Linked DNA regions of Homo sapiens. The protein of the gene in region 2 interacts with the protein of the main gene of each other region in a pairwise test. Each region holds a gene or a part of one and is shown on either strand. Other genes may lie near its edges.

What was found. The genes of interacting proteins can lie anywhere in the genome.
Region 1: the proteins of RUNDC3B (region 2) and CSNK1G1 interact in a two-hybrid assay, tested with the Homo sapiens proteins (one large-scale study listed by BioGRID and IntAct).

What each region holds. Positions count from the first base shown.
Region 1 is NC_000015.10:64,199,023-64,202,680, reverse strand, and holds part of CSNK1G1 (casein kinase I isoform gamma-1), read left to right. Parts: intron 1-3,658.
Region 2 is NC_000007.14:87,736,396-87,740,053, reverse strand, and holds part of RUNDC3B (RUN domain-containing protein 3B), read right to left. Parts: intron 264-3,658; coding exon 174-263; intron 1-173.

The sequences.
Region 1 (3,658 bases), on a different chromosome or scaffold from region 2:
CTTTGGAGGCTGAGGTGGGAGAATCACCTGAGCCCGGGAAGTCAAGGCAGCAGAGAGCCAAGATTGCTTCCGCATTTGCACTCCAGCCTGAGTGATAGAGTGAGACCCTGTCTTAAAAAAAAAAAAAAAAAAGTGTGTGGGCCTGTCAGAGTCTGTTGGCTGTTGGGGGGAACTAGCTATAAGTTAGGATCAGAGGCATCTACCATAGGACCAAAAGACCTGTTGGAGGCTACTCTGGGCACAGTGCCTGTGGAGTAGCCCTACTCGCCAAGGAGCAGTTTAAAAAAAAAAAGACCTGTCGCACAGACAGGATGTACCAGGTAGCCCACTTTGGGTCTCATCTGTAGTCTGGTCTAGAGCTCTTGCCAGTTCTGGTTTTTCCTTGCTGGTTAAGAATGGTAGGTACTTTGGACTTCCAACTGACTTGGGCATGAAATGGAACCTCCACACCACCCCTTGTTCTTCTACCCGGGCAAATTATAGAGCTGGTCAAGATTTGAGATGGACCTGCAGTGAAGACTCAGCTTAGGCGATGTCATCTGTCCTTCATTGTTCGTTGTTTGGAAAACTAGTGGTCTCAGTGAGGGACATCTCTCAGCCTAAAGACAGATAAGGCAAACACACACCAAAAAATCAACAAGTTTGACATTTTTAAAAAGGGCTTATGTATTTGGGAAGTAAATATGACATAGGATTTTTATCTTTATATTAAATATATTGCTAAGAGAAAAACAGAGACCACAGTAGGTAAATAAGCAAAGCATAATAAACAGATTACATATTTTTAAAATAATTATCACATATCAAATTAGCTTATTTCCTCTCCTTATGATTTCACTTTCTTGTATTAACATTTTTACAAGAAAATACAAAAACATTTATTTCATAGATGCACATGTGCAAGTATATAGGTTAAGAATAGTATATAAACACACACACACACACACACACACACACACACACACACACACACATGTCCAATGGAGTACACCCACAAATATATTTTCTCACCAGTAAGTATATACTCTTGGCAAAATATGTGGTTTGGTGGGTAAGAAAAAAGTATGTAAAAGGAGGAAAGCCATTTACTAGAGAGTACATATAAACGAGAAAATAGGTGGGCAAAAAAGAAAGGGTTAAGCAAACTCTGGGCACTAATTGGGTCCATAGTCACATCCTTTAAAGTCGTTGTTTAAGATTTATAATTTGACTGACTTCTGGTTTGACAACAAAAGACTGTTGACTTCTGCAGTTCTCTCCCATCCCTCCCTTTTTAAAAGCTAATAGCTAGTGCAGGTGAGGGCACAGTTAAACTGACATATTGCTGTTGATTTTACGAATTGTACAAATTCTCTAGAAAGCAATTTCTTTTTTCTTTTCTTTTTCTTTCTTTTTTTTTTTTTTTTTTTGAGACAGTGTCTTGCTCTGTCACCCAGGCTAGAGTGCAGTGGTGCAATCTCAGATTACCTCAACCTCTGTCTCCCAGATTCAAGCAATTCTCCTGTCTCAGCCTCCCAAGTAGCTGGGATTACAGGCACATACCACCATACCTGGCTAATTTTTGTATTTTTATTAGAGATGAGGTTTCGCCATGTTGGCCAGGCTGGTCTCGAACTCCTGACTTCAGGTCATCCACCTGCCTCGGCCTCCCAAAGTACTGGGATTACAGGCGTGAGCCACTGTGCCTGGCTAGAAAGCAATTTGATCAAGTTATTTTCTTCTCTGATGAAATACCTTACTTCTTGAAATCAATCAATAAAACCACTCAAAGTATAGGTTATGTGCATAAAACTGTTGCATTGTCATTGGTAGCAGAGATATAGAAATGATCTGCCTATCCACCTATAAAGGCATGGTTATAAATCTACTTCACATCCTTTATTGAATAAACTGGGTTATAGTAAAGTGAGCTGGACGGGATGGGGAAATAAGCAGAATCAATGGAAGGAGATCAAAATTATTAACAGAAATAGGGTTGGAAGTGTAGTAATATATTCTAAAATATTTTAAATGAAGTTTTATTACTCTATAATGCGGCCAGGCGCAGTGGCTCACGCCTGTAATCCCAGCACTTTGGGAGGCCGAGGCGGGTCGATCACCTGAGGTCAGGAGTTCGAGACCAGCCTGGCCAACATGGTGAAACCCTGTCTCTACTAAAAATATAAAAATTAGCTGGGTGTGGTGGCACATGCCTCAAATCCCGGCTACTCAGGAGGCTGAGGCAGGAGAGTCACTTGAACCTGGGAGGTGGAGGTTGCAGTGAGACGAGATGGTACCATTACACCCCAGCCTGGGCACCACTGCACTCCAGCCTGGGCAACAAGAGAGAAACTCCATCTCAAAAAACAAAAATGCATTTAAGTAGAAAATGTATGTAAAGAAAAAATAGATAAGTAGTGTCATATCACAGTCAACATATATCCTTGTGTCTCTTTTTTTTTTTGAGACAGAGTTTAGCTCTTATCACCAAGGCTGGAGCATGATCTTGGCTCACTGCAACCTCCGCCTCCTGAGTTCAAGCGATTCTTCTGCCTCAGCTTCCTGAGAAGCTGGGATTACAGGTGCCTGCCACCACACCGGGCTAATTTTTGTATGTTTAGTGGAGATGGGGTTTCACCATGTTGGCCAGGCTAGTCTGGAACTCCTAACCTCAGGTGATCCACCTGCCTCAGCCTCACAAAGTGCTGCAATTACAGGCATGAACCACCATGCCCGGCACCTTGTGCCTATTTTTTAGAATATTTTTTATTTTTTAAAATTCTTTTTTACCTCCATTCTCTTAGAATGTGATAGAATTTTTTTTAAAATTTTATTTATTTATTTATTTTGAGATGGAGTCTTGCTCTGTCGCCCAGGGTGGTGTGCAGTGGCGCGATCTCGCGTCACTGCAACCTCCACCTCCCGGGTTCGAGCAACTCTCCTGCCTCAGCCTCCCGAGTAGCTGGGACTGCAGGCGCACGCCACCACACCTGCATAATGTTTTGTATTTTAGTAGAGACAGGGTTTCACTGTCTCCCAGGCTGGTTGCGAACTCCTGAGCTCAGGCAATCCGCCCGCCTCGGCCTCCCAAAATGCTGGGATTACAGGCATGAGCCACCGCGCCCGTCCTAGACTATCTTAAAATATGTGTTTCCTTTACTTTCCTGCTTCAGTGAATTTATAACCAATGCTGTGGTTTTGCATGGATTTTTAAAGTATGAGGAAAAGAGATGATTGAAAACTTCGGTTGTCAGGGTAAAAACTGAGTAGTGAATTTCAATGTACTTTTAAATGAAAAGTCTCTGACCACAGTATATAATTATTTAGGAAAATCTCATCTGTATTTAACTACTATGCTTATTTTTGAAAAGTTGAATCTTGAATATCTCTCTTTGATATATATTTTTTTCTCTTTTTCTTTTCTTTTTCTTTTTTTTTTTTTTTTTTTTTTGAGAAAAGATTTCACTCTGTTGCCCAGGCTGGAGCACAGTGGCACAATCACAGCTCACTGCAGCCTCAACTTCCTGGGCTAAAGTGATCCTTCCACCTTAGCCTCCTGAGTAGCTGGGACTACAGGCACACGCCACCACGCCCAGCTAATTTTTTTTTTTTTTTCGTATTTTCTGTAGAGACAGTTTCACTGTGTTTCTCAGGCTGTTCTCAAATTCCTGGGTTCAAG
Region 2 (3,658 bases):
CTGAGAGCAAACTCATTTAGAAAACAAACTGATGTCATTTGAAAGAGAACAACATGAATCAAATAACAATATCCAACTGTGTGCTTTACTTAGACAACTGAAAGAAAAAAATCATAAGTAGAAACTATTAAGATATAGAATAATTTAAAAACTGAATGCATTTGGTTAAGTACCTGAAATCAATAGCATTGAGTCCTAGAAGCATGCCAGCAAGCATATTTGCTTCTTCACCCAAGACAATTGCTCCATCTTCATAAAATCTCCTAAAAAATGAAATGGGTGAATATATAAAATATTAAAAATAAATGGAAGTTTGATCGAGAGAAATCATTTAGAGCCCAAACTATTGTAGGAAGAGCTAAATTTTATTTAATTTGTATTTTTAAAAAAAACATATTTCCATCACTGAAGTTTTGAAGATATTTAGACCAAAATAAAGAGACAAAACAACAACAACAAATCCCTGAAGAAACTAAAACCTGCCAATATAACAAAAAGAATTCTCTGTTTCCAGCTCTCCTAAAAAGAAACCCCCAAGTGAGTCTTTCAATGGGTCTAGAGTGCCAGCATTTTTCCTTAATAGTGAAGCAATATAAATGTAAAGTGAAAGGTGGCAAATTCAGAGTCATCTGTATTTACCTATTTTCAAAATGAAGTAGACTTGAGTTCTAATAAATAAGATAAAATTAAGTTCTGTTTTTCTATAATTGCAAAGATTACTGAGTAAGTTAAGAATTTGGGAGGCATACTTGTTAGTAATTTATGGTAACCTTAATAGTGCAATCCTAATAAAGCAGATGGGCTACCAAGGTGGCTGCATATGAAAAAGAAAGTATTCAATATCTCCTTGACAAAAATGGGAATGTGAATGTATCTTTGTTAATTCCTGTAAAGCTTTACATTTTAGTTATCATTAGTTTTTAAAATATTTTTGAAAGAAAAATCATTATGTGGCCCTAAGGTATTTTTCCAAAAATGAATGTAAAATCATTTAATCTACTTCTTTTAAAACGTAGTACTATGTAAAATCTAGTTTATATCAGTAACCAGGGATGATCACACTGCTATAAGTATTTATATTACATATAAGAGAGTGAACACCACTCTATACCACCCCATTAACTAAAATGAAACATTTTAGTAAATCAAAGGTCTTGCTCTTTTCAGTATTTCTGAGTTTATAAATTCTGCAAAAAATTTCAATATGCTCATAATCCTACCATCAATTTTGAATTGTTGTTCACAGCTTACTAAGTATTTTTACAAACATATTACTTGATACTTGCAAAAAAACCCATAAATTAAAGGCAGAAGGAATCATTAGTTTCAAATTTACCATCAGGAAAAGTTTAAAACAATTTGCACAAGCTCATGTTAGATGAATTGCTTAAGAAGGCTACCCAATTCTTCTTTAAGTCCTATATCTTCTATTAAATCTACGTTTCGTAAAACAAAAATATTTTAAAAGAACTTAATGTATGGTATGGTTCATAAGGAATATTAAATGAATAAAAAGTACAAAATGGAAAAAATAGTCAACTATTTACTCTCTGACAGATGTAAGGCTGCAAACAAATACAGTGGGGAGACTGGCTTGGAATAAATGTTTTTTATTTTCTTGGACCTACTGAAATTGCTTTTACTGATTTATATAAAAGGAGAAAAATGAAAACTTCTGGCCTAACAAAATTAGTAAAATAAATGGAAGGATTTTTTTACATATTCTACTGAGGTGTCCTGCAGAAAGGTAAAATATTTAGACAAATATGTATGTTTGAGACTTTGTCCCTGGTCCAATAACTAAGTTGGCTATTGGCAGAATATATTATTAACCCCTGGAAGAACTATGCTTCTAATGGTTTCAGACCACTAAATTCTATGAGACATATGAATTTGGAAAAGAATCTTGTTTTTTTGATACTGCCAATAACCCATTATTCCTAGTACTTCTTATATAAGAAAAGGTCTACTTCTTTTATTCCTCATCTTGAACCTACCATTGTTTAAAAAATACATTCTAAAAATCAGCTCAAAACTATTCTTGCTTGCTTTCTAATGGCACCTTTGTACTAGGGAGTGTTGAAGAACACCACGGCAAAAAATTAACTGGTTTGAGAAATTTTTTAAAAACTAAAGGTCTTTTATGTGTGTGCATATAATAATGTTTTAATGAGTTTTTCACTTTAGTTTTACTCATTAGTAAATAAGTAAATTTTCTAAGCGAATGATTTAAGATAAGTAAAATGGTTGCTATATGTAAAATCAATAATTCCACTGAAAAAAATCATATCTTAAGTGTAAGATATGATTTAATATAACAGCAAAAGAGGAAAGGAAAAATGGAAGAGGAAGGGCTAGTTAAGAGGATTGCCCATTATATGCTGAACTTTTAAATTATTAGTTCTGGTTAAGAAAAACATTATTTTTCAGAAGATGTACTTCTGAGCTTAAGATAATATATTTTAAAGTAATTCAGTATTTAGAAAACTGAAACGATCTGAGAAGATAATATTTTTATCATTTAATCAAAGACTTCATTCATGTGTATGAAAGAGGTAGAAGCTGTCTCGAAAAATTAATTTCTTCTCTTATGCAAACTAATATATCAATAATTAGACTAAAAATCTGATTCCTGTGGTCAATACTTTCAAATATTCCAAAAGATGGTAAAATTTCAACCTTTTCATTTTACCTCATTGAAAAATTGGAACATTAAACTTTGCTTATATAACCAAGATCATAAAATAAATGAGCCAGGAGTAAAGCCTGAGATGACTAATCCAATAATAGTAAGGTATATACTTAAAATTCCCTTTTTTCAGTTAAAAATATTTTTTGTTCTAAAGAAAATTTTTATGCCAGGCCTGGTGGCTCATGCCTGTAATCCCAGCACTTCTGGAGCCTTAACAGGCAGATCATTTGAGCCCAGGAGTTAGAGATCAGCCTGGGCAACATGGTGAAACCCACCTATACAAAAAATACAAAAAAATTAGCCAGACGTGGTGGCACATGCCTGCAGTCCCAGCTACTTGGGAGGCTGAGGTGAGAGGATGGCTTGAGTCAGGAAGACAGAGGTTGAAGTGAGCTGAGATGGTCCCACTGCACTCCAGCCTGGGTGACAGAGCAAAACCCTTTCTCAAAAAAAAAAAAAAAAAAAAAAAAAATATATATATATATATATATATATATATATATATAGGTATATATATACACACATACATATATATAACATATATAAATATAAATATATATAATACATATATGTATATGTATAAATGAGAAGAATCTAACCAAAACATTGTACTGCTTAAGTTCAACATATTATAAATGTTGAAAGTACCAAAGTAAAAAATACATATGAAACTTCCATTTAAAGATTTTTATATTAGAGACTATACCTTTAAATATAGTTTTATATTACAGAAGTGAGGAAAAATTACAAGCAACTATTTGATACTACTGTGATCTGGGAAAAAAACTTCCTGATCTTATTAGGTATACCACCGTTTCCAAGTATTTATATGTTGATTAGAAAAACATTAGTGACTAGAAAAGTATTTAAAATAATGCCCTTATAAGAATATGCTTTTCTTTTACCACATATAATTTAACTCTAATTGAAATATATTCCTATAATGCCACCTTGGTGTCCATTCTG